Linked DNA regions of Homo sapiens: all the other regions are reported to be linked to region 1. Evidence: microRNA targets listed by miRTarBase, many of them from high-throughput screens and not tested one by one. Region 1 holds a microRNA gene; each other region holds the end of a gene's coding sequence.

Region 1 (3,168 bases):
GGGAGTGCATTCCAAGCTGCAGGAACAGCAGAGGCAAAAGCCCTGAGGCTGGAGAACAGGTAACCATGTGCAGTTTTTCACTTGATTAGGGTGTTGCAGAGAATTGGGAGTGAGTCTTATATATTTATTTATTTATTTATTATTTTTTACTGAGATGAGGTCTTGCTATGTTGCCCAGGCTGGTCTCGAACTCCTGAGCTCAAGCTATCCTCCCACCTTGGCCTCCCAAAGTGCTGGGATTACAAGTGTGAGCCACCATGTCTGGCAAAGGTGGTGAGCCTTTATGATGTCATAAGTCACCACTGGGCACAAGTTCACACTTGTCCTATGATTGGCCCATGACACTGATGGGTAGCAGACAGGAAAGGAATCTTTTCTGAAACTTTTTTTTTGAAACAGGGTGTTGTTCTGTTGCCCAGTCTGGAGTGCAGTGGTGCAGTCATGGCTCACTGCAGCCTTGATCTCCCAGGCTCAAGTGTTCCTCCCACCTCCTAAGTAGTTGGGACTACAGGCATGTGTCAACTCACGGGGTCTCACTATATTGCCCAGGCTGGTCTCAAACTCCTGTACTCAAGCAATCCTCCCATCTCATCCTCCCAAAATGTTAGGATTACAGGTATGAGCTCCCACACCCAGCCCACTTCTGGAACTTTTATTGAAAAGTATCCTTAGGCTGGGTTCGGTGGCTCACACCTGTAATCTTGGCACTTTGAGAGGCTGAGGCAGGAGACCATGTCTTTACAAAAAAGAAAAAAAAAATGTTTTTTGAGACAGAATCTCTCTCTGTTGCCCAGGCTGGAGTGCAGTGGTGCAATCTTGGGTCATGCAGCCTCTGCCTCCTGGGTTCAAGGGATTCCCATGCCTCAGCCTCCCGAGTAGCTGGGACTACAGGTGTGTGCCACAACGCCCAGCTAATTTTTGTATTTTTAGGAGAAATGGAGTTTCACCATGTTGTCCAGGCTGGTCTTGAACTCCTGGCCTCAAGTGGTCCACCTGCCTTGGCCTCCCAAAGTGCTGGGATGACAGGCGTGAGCCACCCGGCCAAAAAAATAATAATTTTTTTTTTAATAGAAAAGTACCCTGAGAACTCTGGTCTAGGGAGGGCTTTAAATGTCATTCCCTCATTGGGTCTCCCAGGAAAGCGCCATAAGGTGGTTAGAGGTCTTGGGTTTAGAGTCAGGTATGTTCTATCTCCAGGCTTGTGGGGGCGTACGAGTGATGTGACAAACCCCATACATGGTGCATGGCTGTATGAGCACAGGATGTATGTCCTTGTTTGCTTCCCTCCTTTGCCTGTGCCTGTATCGCCTGGAGTGAGCCAGCCCCCCCACTCCGAGTGGAAGCGATTCTTCCCCGACCTCCCCGGTTCTCCCCCACTGGCCAGCCCATTGAAGGCGAAGGTCGAAGGGAGTCTGCGCTATGAGGCCGGCTGTGACTTGTTGTCGTAGTACATCAGAACAACAAAATCACTAGTCTTCCACACAGCACTAGACCACAGCCACTCTAATCTTCTTCACCACCCTCTGCCCCATGTCTGAGACCCCTGCCCAGCTCCTCCTTCTCACCTGAGCCAAGCTATGACACCTGAGTTTCCTGCCTCTGTGCTGCCTCCCTGTTTTCCATTCCCGGTTCTCCTGGAGAGAAGCAGGGTCTGATCTCCAAGGGCCCACCTCCCACCCAGGCACGTCAGAGACATGGGATTTGGAGTTGGACTGGTGGGGTTGACTTACAGCTTCACTTGTGGGCTGAGAGTCCCTGCGTGGGTTATTTTTCTGCCTTTCTCAGGGCCTTGGGTTCCCCAAATGTCACATGGGCACAGTAACACCCATGTCCTAGGGTTGAAGATGGCATGATATGATGTATGTAAAATGCTTGGCACAAGGTTTCTCACCGAAGTCTGGAAGAGACACCATAATGTCATCTTAGCAGGCAGCTGTTACCCCAGTGAGGTATCTTACCTGTTGAAAATTCCGGACTTGGGCCAGGCGCAGTGACTCACGCCTGTAATCCTAGCACTTTGGGAGGCTGAGGTGGACGGATGAAGAGGTCAAGAGTTTGAGACCAGCCTGGCCAACATGGTGAAACCCCGTCTCTACTAAGAATACAAAAATTAGCCGGGAGTGGTGGCATGTGCCTGTAATCCCAGATACTCGGGAGGCTGAGGCAGGAGAATCCCTTGAACCCAGGAGGCAGAGGTTGCAGTGAGCCGAGATCGTGCCACTGCACTCCAGCCTGGGCGACAGAGCAAGACTCCGTCTCGAAAAAAAAAGAAAATTGCAGACTTCTGTGTGTGCTTATCTGGAAAATACTTTGTTTAAAAATCCATTACATGAGGTGCAGGTCTCCAGAAATGCCAGGCACCTCAGACCACCCTCTCTCGTCCTCCCCCTGCAAAATCAGGGTCAAAGGGCTCTCCCGTTACCTGGAGGAGCTGTCCAGGGTTCTGGAGACGAAACGGAGCCCGCTGGGAACTGTCCTGAGCCCCGGTGCTGAAACAGATCGCGGTTCTCTTCTCGGACCTCCCGAGAGGCGCTGTCCGGATATTTGGTGCTGAAATAAATAGCATTCTCCTCCTTCGGTCGGTGGAGAGCTGTCCCTCGTGCTGAAGAAAACTTGATTTTCCTCTCTCTTTCCCCGTTCCCCCACCCCTCTTCGTTCTCGGTTCCTCCGATTCTTGGGAAACCCCACCCCCACTCAATTTATTTCCCCTCCTAGCTTCTTCCTGGGGAGCTTCAGAATGGCAATGGGGTGGCGGGGGGGAGACACAGAGGGGTCGCAACTAGCACTGATACCTGCTCCTCACCCTGTACCATGTCCCCAGAACTTACCTCCCAAGCAGTCAGCCCTGCTGGTCTCTGCTTTCCAGACCGTCAAACTTCGCCGTCTCTGTCCCTTTCTGGGAAAATGTCCATGCGCCAACCTGCAAACCAGCCTCATTCCCGGCATCCCACGTCCCTCAGACCACCCCTCCTCCCACGCAGCTGCGGGCCTCCCCCTCTGTGTGCCTCACCTGCTTCCAGTCTTGTTGGCAGATGCAGGTGTCCCGTGGCTGCCGAGGCGGGGACCTGCGCTTTTATAGGCTTCAGGGAAGGCGGAGCGCCAGGAATCCTGGGAGGGGCTTCCCCAACTGGCCAATGGGATTCCGCCTCAGAATGAAGCTCCAAAGAT
Region 2 (3,168 bases), not on the chromosome of region 1:
TATCTATATTTATGTGAATGAAGAAGCACTGGTAATTTTTTAAGTGCCCAGGTGATTGAAATGTATAGCCAGATTTAACAGCTTGTTATATTTAAGGTAAGGAAGAAGTAGAAGACATAATTTTTGCTCTTAAGGAGGCTATAATCTAGGTAGAAATAAGCACATGTACGTGAATCAAAAAAGCAATTATAAATCAATATAATAATGCCATATGTGCTTTATGTAAGATATAGCATAAATCATATAATTATTAGAGGTACAGGGAATGAATATGGTAATCAGTGTATGTTGAAATTAAATAAGAAAGACTTCTTGGAAGTAAATGTTGAATTTTGTCTTAAAAGAGGAGAGGGGCAAAATCATCCTAAAATTGCTATTTCTTTTTAAAGATGAAAGTCTACAGCTGGTAAACCATGAAGCAAATTCTGTGGCAGTGGATGTTATTCCTCATGTTGACAACCCAACCTTTGAAGAAGACGAAACTCCTAATCAAGAGACTGCTGTTCGAGAAATTAAATCTTAAAATCTGTGTAAATAGAAAACTTGAACCATTAGTAATAACAGAACTGCCAATCAGGGCCTAGTTTCTATTAATAAATTGGATAAATTTAATAAAATAAGAGTGATACTGAAAGTGCTCAGATGACTAATATTATGCTATAGTTAAATGGCTTAAAATATTTAACCTGTTAACTTTTTTCCACAAACTCATTATAATATTTTTCATAGGCAAGTTTCCTCTCAGTAGTGATAACAACATTTTTAGACATTCAAAACTGTCTTCAAGAAGTCACGTTTTTCATTTATAACAATTTTCTTATAAAAACATGTTGCTTTTAAAATGTGGAGTAGCTGTAATCACTTTATTTTATGATAGTATCTTAATGAAAAATACTACTTCTTTAGCTTGGGCTACATGTGTCAGGGTTTTTCTCCAGGTGCTTATATTGATCTGGAATTGTAATGTAAAAAGCAATGCAAACTTAGGCGAGTACTTCTTGAAATGTCTATTTAAGCTGCTTTAAGTTAATAGAAAAGATTAAAGCAAAATATTCATTTTTACTTTTTCTTATTTTTAAAATTAGGCTGAATGTACTTCATGTGATTTGTCAACCATAGTTTATCAGAGATTATGGACTTAATTGATTGGTATATTAGTGACATCAACTTGACACAAGATTAGACAAAAAATTCCTTACAAAAATACTGTGTAACTATTTCTCAAACTTGTGGGATTTTTCAAAAGCTCAGTATATGAATCATCATACTGTTTGAAATTGCTAATGACAGAGTAAGTAACACTAATATTGGTCATTGATCTTCGTTCATGAATTAGTCTACAGAAAAAAAATGTTCTGTAAAATTAGTCTGTTGAAAATGTTTTCCAAACAATGTTACTTTGAAAATTGAGTTTATGTTTGACCTAAATGGGCTAAAATTACATTAGATAAACTAAAATTCTGTCCGTGTAACTATAAATTTTGTGAATGCATTTTCCTGGTGTTTGAAAAAGAAGGGGGGGAGAATTCCAGGTGCCTTAATATAAAGTTTGAAGCTTCATCCACCAAAGTTAAATAGAGCTATTTAAAAATGCACTTTATTTGTACTCTGTGTGGCTTTTGTTTTAGAATTTTGTTCAAATTATAGCAGAATTTAGGCAAAAATAAAACAGACATGTATTTTTGTTTGCTGAATGGATGAAACCATTGCATTCTTGTACACTGATTTGAAATGCTGTAAATATGTCCCAATTTGTATTGATTCTCTTTAAATATAAAATGTAAATAAAATATTCCAATAAAAGTTTGTGTCTGGTGTTAGTTTAACTATCTGTATTAGGATGTTTCTTGTGTCACTATAAAGGAATACCTGAGACTGGGTAATATATAAGGAAAACAGGATTAATTGGCTCATGGTTTTATAAGCTGTATAGTAAGCATGGGGCCAACATCTGCTTCACTTCTGGTAAGGGCCTCAGGAAGTTTACAGTCATGATGGAAGGCTAAGTGGAAACACATCACATGACAAGAGCAGGAGGAAGAGAGAGAGAAGCAAGAGGTCCCAGACTCTTAAATAAGCAGATCTTGCATGAACTGAGTGAGAACTCACTTATCACCAAGGGGATGATGCTAAATCATTCATGAGGGATCCACCTTCATGATCCAATCACCCCCACCAGGCCTCACCCCCGACATTGAGAATCACATTTCAACATGAGATTTGGAAGGGACAAATATCCAAACCTTATCACTGTCCATACACTAATTTTTCTCATATAATATGTCTGGATTTGGGAGATAAGAAAATGGTTGGATATAAATGGTCATTTATATATTTGATCAATAAACACTGAAACATTAGTATGATATATTTACATATTACATAGAGAGGAATGGATGCCATTGTAGTATCATTCAACTTACCATGAATTATTGTTAAATGTCAGCCAGGTAAAAAGGGTTTGACCAGTAATAATATAACATTAAAATAGACCTTGATGCCAGTCCATCTTCATGCTATACATGACAGAGGAACTTTTATTACTTTAAAGTTTTTCTTCAGACTTCTCTTTGTCAGTGTGATTGTCAGGATGCTGTTAATAAGTTAAGTGCATCTTTCTTTTGTCAAGCATGTTAAGAATACACAGATGCTTGGAACGCCTCAGCACTATGATTATCAAACCAGGTACATGTGTCTTATGTGACGATATGCCGGGGACGAGGGTGGATGTGTGATGCCTGTATTCTTGCCCTATATTCTTAGATAGTTAACCTCTTTTCAAGTTTTGTGGGACTTCTTTGGGGGCATTTTTAAGTGTTTTTTAACGGCTGTACTGAAGTATAATTTACCCATTGTAAATATATCATTGGAATGTGTTTAGCAAATGTGTAGATATGTACAACTATTACCACAATCCAGTTTTAAAACACTCCATCACCCCAAAACATTCCCTCATGCCCATTTACAGTTAGTTCCCCCTCCCATTTCCAGCCCCACATCACCACCAATCTGCTGTTTCTATAGATTTGTCTATTGTGGACATTTCATATAAATGGAATCATACATTATAGGCCTTTTGTGACTGGCTTCTTCCCCTTAGCATAATGTTTTCAAGGTTCCTCCATGTTGTAGCATATAACAGTATTTCGTTCATTTTCCTTGCTGAGC
Region 3 (3,168 bases), not on the chromosome of region 1:
TTACAAACTGGGACCTTGGCCCAGTTCATTTCATCCTGTTTCCCCATCTGGAAAGTGGGCTGATCATAAACATGGTTCACCTGTGGCAGGGATGATTCATGTGATTATGCCTGCAAATGCCTGTCAAAACTCAGTGCTCAATGCTATTAGCCATTTATGCCATGGAGATGGGACAGAGGCCCAGGAAGGACAAGCTGGCTAGCCAGGGCCACACAACAGGGCAACCCCAGGGCTGGGAGTGACCACCAAGAACTACCCTCCACTTGCCAGCCCCCAGGGGAGTTTAAGCCACAGGCTCTCTTCGCATCCCATCATATCCCTCTCCCACCCCCCCGTCCCCCACCCCCAGGATGGACTCGCCCTCAGCCACTGTGGTCAGCGCTGTGCAGTCCAGGTGCAAAACCGGTGAGTCCTCTTGCCCCGAGAACCCATGGTGGGGTGAGGGTGAGGGTGTAGGGGATCATGATCCTAAAGGCATCATTTTAAGTGGCTCCCAAACCTCCAGCCCCTTCCCTCCCCTACCCCTTATGTTCCCTGTAGCTGCCTCCAGATCAGGCCTCTCCAAGGCCCCCTCCCGAAAGAAGAAGGGCAGCAAAGGCCCCGTGATCAAAATCACCGAAATGTCAGAGAAGTACTTCTCGCAGGAGTCGGAGGTCTCAGAGTAAGGCGGCTGGACCCCAGGAACCCCAGGGCACTCCACTGCAGCAGGAGGGACTTAAGCTAGACTCAAGAAAGCAGCTTGGAGCCTCTAGGTTGAGAAGAGAGGCAAAACCTGATATTGAACTGAGAGAGGGGTTCAAAACTGACTGTGTTTTGTGGGCTGCCAGGGTGGGAGAGGAGCATCACCAGCTCCTCAGAGCCACTCCGCTCCATATCAGTATCTCACAGTCCCATCCTTCCAACCTTCTGGCCAGAGGTTTTCCTGATGGGTGAGTCGGAATTAGGGGTCAGTTTTGTCTCCACCTCCTCGCTCCTCTGAGGCTCCTCCTCCAGCATCAGGCTCTGCCAAGGCCCCTCTGACTCTTGCCCAATCCTTGACCTTGACTCCTATCTCAAGCCTTGCCTTGTCTCTGCCTCGGAACTGGGACTGGGACTGGCTCATCCACCTATGTGCGGGAGCCGAGGAGGACGGCGTGGGCCCTGTCCTGTATCTGGAATTCCTGGGAAGGCTGGCTGCTGAAGACCCTCTTGGCTTTCCCGTGCTCTTTGGGCTCCCCAGAGACCTGACAGTATTAGGGAGTGAAGGGAGGAGGGGCCCTGGCTATTTGGGACCTAAGCCTAGGCCCCAGAGATCAGCCCGAACACCCGCATCCCTTCCTCCTCCCATGGGTCCCTCCCAGTAGGCAGTAGTCAGAACTGGATGGGCTGCCCCCAGCCAGCTCCCAGCAGCTTCTCCGGAAGCTGCTCTTGCCATAATCAACTCCCTGGGAGTGGAAGCCAGATGGCAGCTTGAGATTGGGCAGGAGCATTCGATCTTCCTTTCACCTCCCTGCCATGCTGGGGTCCTACCCAGCCTGGATCTGAGCTCTGTGCCCCCAGCCGGGTTGTTCCCAGCCTGAGCACCGGGCTTTGGTGCACCAGGCCTTGGAGACCCCTGGTCCCACCCCTGCCGTGAAGCCCCAGGCCCACTTCCCAAGAATCTCACTTCTCAGGGCCTCTGTTCTCCTCTCCACTGGGCCAAATAGCCTGGCCCTCCCCTCCTTGGCATTCATGGGGGAGCCCAGGAACCCCCCACACCTATGGGGTTAGAGCTCCTCCTTTCTTCTCACTCCTTCCCCTTCCTCCCTCCATGCCCACTCCCCCTGCCTCCAGCAGGCCAGGAAGAAGGCACAGTCCAGGCAAGTCTGGGAGCTTCCAAGCCCTTGAGGTCCAGCTGTGGGGCCCAAATGACAGCCTTACAAGGGTTCTACCAGAGAGGAAAATTCCACATCCCACCAGAAGACAGGGGTGTTGGCAGGCATACTCCTATCTCCTCCTCTTGGCTCTCAATGCTGAGGCTTGCAGAGGCATCCCAGCGGCACCAGCCTCCCACTGCACAGCTTCCTTCCCTCCTTCACTCTCCTCTCCCCTCCCTGCCCCTTGCCTCACCTCCTCTTCTAGACTGCATTAGATTCATTCATCTCATTTGCCAGGACATGTTGGCCAGAGGTCTGGGCCCATCCCAGGCCTCAAGGCCCTCCAGGCCTGTGGGGAGCACTGGAGGGTTACTGACTCTCTGGCCATGGGAACTCAGAGATTCTCATCCCCAAAGTCCCAAAAGAGGGTGCTGATTGGTGCTTTTCCTCAGGCTCTTCATTGGTTTCCAAGGGAGCAAATCCTCAGTGGGGATACAAGACATATAAAGTATATATTATTTTTTCATAACTTATGTGGCTTTTAACTTATTGCTTCCCTTCCTGTTTCTGCATGATCAGTCTGTATGTACTATCTGGAAAGATAACACATACTCCAGCCACCTCACCTGATTGGCTATCTTGGGGCCATGTCCCCTTCTTGCTGCCACAGGATGAATAAAGTGTTGAGATTTGTCTATGGAGAAAGCTGTGTGTCTGTTTTTATCTCCCCTCTCAGGACCAGTCAGCCACTGGTCAATCAGGCTGATCATGGAACATTAGGAATTCTCCAATTAAGGGAGAAAAAGTCCAGGGACTTAGTTATATCTTCAGACCAGTGCAGCTGGTACACACAAAGTTCTCCTGTCTCACCATCTGATATGGTTTGGATGCTCGTCCCCTCCAAATCTCATGTTGAAATGTAATTCCCAGTGTTGGAAGTGGAGCCTGGTGGGAAGTATTTGGATCATGAGAGAGGATCCTTCATGAATGGCTCAGCACCATCTCCTTGGTGATGAGTGAGTTCTCACTCAATTCACATAGATATGGTTGTTTAAAAGAGTCTGAGACCTCTCCCCTCTTTCTCGCCATGTGATATGCCTGCTCCCCCTTCACCTTCCGCCTTTACTGTAAGCTTCCTGAGGCCCTCACCAGAAGCTGAGCAAATGTTGGTGCCATGCCAGTACAGCCTGCAGAATTGTGAGCCAAAATAAATGTCTTTTCTTTATAAATTACCAAGTCTCAGGGATTTCTTTCTTTTGTGTATGTGTGTGTCTGTGTGTGTGTGTCTGTGTGTGTATGTGTGAGACAGAATCCTGCTCTGTCATCCAGGCTG
Region 4 (3,000 bases), not on the chromosome of region 1:
AACACTAGCACTCCTGGTGCTAGCCCACTCCTCTGATGTGCTAGAGAATGTCTTCTCCTCTCTGACAGATGACAAGTATGATGTGGCAATGAATCGAGCCAAGGACTTAGTAGAACTGGACCCTGAAGTGGAAGGGACAAAGCCTAGTGCCACAGAAATGATCTGGGCTGTGCTGGCAGCCTTCAATAAATCTTAAAGCCGGCAGGTGGATTTCTCCTTTTCCCCTGCTGGCTGGTGACTGTCAGAGACCCCATCACTGAGTTTTGTGTGATGAGATGTTTTCATCATTTTTGTTTCCTTTTCTTGAATCAGACTTGTGATTTGGGGAGAGCAACTTCAGGGCTTCTCCATAGACCTTGACCATTATAAGCAGACCTTATTTCTCCCTACACTTCCACTCCATAGGTAAATAAACTGGGTGAAGCCACACACACCCAATGAACATTTTCTCCCATTTGGTGGTTTAGTTTCACCCAGTGTGCTTTTGGATAAGCAGAAATATCTAAATGGGATTTTGAGTTCTCCAGCTATAGAATGTGAATGAGATAAAAAGTGAACTATCTATTATATTTTTCTGAGTTTGTTTTCTATCATAAATACATGTTTTCACAGCCTTTGTCTCTCAGACTCTGCTAAATAATGTAGCTTATTGAAATAACTGTCGCTGAATAAGGAGCAATGAGAAACAAAACTAATTTTTGGAGCAGATGGTCTCTGGAATTGCATATCCTGCTAGTGATTTTCTCATCTTTCCTTTTCTAACCTAATGAGAATGTCCCAGATTCAATTACCTGGATGTCAAAGTCCTAGAGCCAGAAATATATTCTCTCATCCCTCTTAGCATTCTCTTGCTCCCTCATTCACTAGGGCAAATGTCTAAATGAAGAAAAGTCTCTCTCAACACCTCGTTCATGCAATCAGCATTAGAATTTGTAAGGAAGGAAGGGGGGTGGCATGAAAATTTCCATTCTTGGGGTATATGACTGTCCTGTTTCCCCCAGGCCACTTTTTTTTTTTTTTTCTTTTGAGACAGGGTCTTGCTCTTGCCCAGGCAGGAGTACAGTAGTGCAATCACAGCTGACTGCAGCCTTGACCTCCAGGGCTCAAGGATCCTCCTGCCTCAGTCTCCCAACTAAGTGGGACTACAGGCACGTGCCACCATACTCAGCTTTTTTTTGTTTGTTTTAGACAAGAGTCTCGCTTTGTTGCCCAGGCTGGTCTTGAATTCCTGGGCTCAAGCAATTCTTCCACCTCAGCCTCCCAAAGTGCTGAGATTACTGGCTTGAGCCACTGCACCCACCCCTCCAGACTACTTTAAATGTCTCTGCTCTGACTGAATTGAAGGAATTGTAAGTTTCAGTTGCTGAATATATCAGTATATCTGAACTCCAGATCTTTTTATTTCCTATTTTTGGCTTCCTACATAAATTAATAAAGTCTGTCTATATTTAAGGTTTCTGGGAGTAGTTTTGTCTATATTTAATCCATAGATGTGCTCCTAGTCATCAGTCTTATTTCAGTAAAACCATCTTTCTGGCCAAATCTCTAACACGTTTTTTACTTCAGTAGTGAGGGCAATGAGAAGCTTTATTAAGAAAGATCCTATTTAAAGGGCTAATTTGGTATTGAAAGCATGCTGATATAAAGTCCAGTATTTGAGGATATAAAGAGGATGTGCACTGAGCTGTGCTGATGTTCAGCATTTATTATACTTTAATGGGATAGTGCTTCTTGACCATTATAGAACAACAAACTGTCAAAGGGTTAATACAGATGACCCAGACCTGACATTAAATCCTCTTGATTAGAAATAATTAAATGAATTATTTATTCATTTCTCTCCTCTGCCAAATCTACTTAGCCCCACAAAAATGCCCCAGCTCAGTTAACATTTTTTTGTTTTTCACTTTAGGTATCTCTTAGGCAAATAGAGATATAAATTGTAATAGGAAACAGTCTCTAAATGTGAGGCTGAATACAGCTTCAGTCTGGCTCTCTAATAGGACAAAAGCCAGTCCATGTGTTGTCTCTAACTGATTTAGCTTTTTCTTTTCTTTGAACAATTCGGCATGAATTGAAACCAGGTTTTCCTGTGGAAAGTTATAGCTTGATTGGGAGATAGAAGTTGAATTGAGTTCTTTCTTGCAACTCTTAGTGTTTATTTTTATATCTCAGTAAGACGAGGATACCTTCAGTTTGAATCTGCATAATGTTCACTGCCAAACTCCTTCTCATTTAATGCTTATGGCCTTCACATTTCTGTATAATAAAGATCAATTATCAGCTCTCTGGTCTCTCTGTGCACAATTTTATAATTTAAATTGTTTTAATTGGAACTAAGGACTTTCTACACAAGGCTATTAATGCCTCCCCCTTTACACTAGCATACCAGCTTGTTTTATCCTATGTAGAAAATGAGGGATACAAAAACAATTGTAACATACATAGGCTGAGGGGCAGGACATGTCAAAAGCTGACCACATGAACACCAGCTAATACTATAAAGCCTAAATAGTGTCTCCATCTCAATCAAAATAAATTAGCCAATTATACCATTATTACCATGAAGAGAATGAATATGATCTGTTCTACTAATATCTACTTGCAAATGACACCTGAATTTAGGAGTTGAAAATCTTAAGTTCCAAATGTAGGTGACATGCCTGACTATAACAGAGTTAACATGTAAAAATGTAAGTGTGCTTATAATTGGCTTATTGTTCTCCCTTTCTTTATCTATAGCACAAGGGACAATAATACATTTGTTTATTAGGATTGTTTATACTTTTCTAATATTTTTATTTAAGACAAAGTACTATTTCCATAAGTCATGCTTTATACAATGTTTCTCAAAGTATATTGCAAAGACCATTGCACCAAAATGTGTGTGTGAGATAGGAGGGTAGCTTGCTAAAATGCAGATCCTAGTAAATCAGTCTCTGGAGTTAGGAGGAAGCTGCATTTTAAAGAAATTCTCAGCCAGGCGCGATGGCTCATGCC

Evidence for each region. The annotated mature microRNA hsa-miR-7-5p reads UGGAAGACUAGUGAUUUUGUUGUU and lies in region 1 at 1,457-1,480, opposite strand. An mRNA with a match to its seed (bases 2 to 7 or 8) in the 3' UTR can be bound and repressed. Matches are read on the target gene's strand: a 7mer-m8 pairs with bases 2 to 8, a 7mer-A1 pairs with bases 2 to 7 and ends in A, and an 8mer does both.
Region 2: the mRNA of RNF128 is a reported target of hsa-miR-7-5p. The part of its 3' UTR that is shown has no 7-base or 8-base seed match.
Region 3: miRTarBase lists KRT80 as a target of hsa-miR-7-5p. The part of its 3' UTR that is shown has no 7-base or 8-base seed match.
Region 4: miRTarBase lists GOLPH3L as a target of hsa-miR-7-5p. Seed matches in the 3' UTR shown: 7mer-A1 at 1,244-1,250.

Annotation. Positions count from the first base shown.
Region 1 is chr19:4,769,012-4,772,179 of GRCh38, reverse strand. It overlaps MIR7-3 (microRNA 7-3), which reads right to left and starts at 1,510; the gene lies at 1,401-1,510. It overlaps MIR7-3HG (MIR7-3 host gene), which reads right to left and starts at 3,075. Exons shown (of 3, transcript NR_027148.1): 1 at 2,829-3,075; 2 at 2,423-2,550; 3 at 1-16. RefSeq lists a silencer at 2,349-2,643.
Region 2 is chrX:106,795,191-106,798,358 of GRCh38, forward strand. It overlaps RNF128 (ring finger protein 128), which reads left to right. Exons shown (of 7, transcript NM_194463.2): 7 at 390-1,826. The coding sequence ends at 523. Among named protein-coding and RNA genes, the nearest start is that of TBC1D8B, 5.9 kb to the right of the region's middle.
Region 3 is chr12:52,168,895-52,172,062 of GRCh38, reverse strand. It overlaps KRT80 (keratin 80), which reads left to right. Exons shown (of 9, transcript NM_182507.3): 8 at 350-405; 9 at 541-3,067. The coding sequence ends at 665. Among named protein-coding and RNA genes, the nearest start is that of KRT80, 22 kb to the left of the region's middle.
Region 4 is chr1:150,645,517-150,648,516 of GRCh38, reverse strand. It overlaps GOLPH3L (golgi phosphoprotein 3 like), which reads left to right. Exons shown (of 5, transcript NM_018178.6): 5 at 1-2,287. The coding sequence ends at 196. Among named protein-coding and RNA genes, the nearest start is that of ENSA, 17 kb to the right of the region's middle. RefSeq lists an enhancer at 1,151-1,652.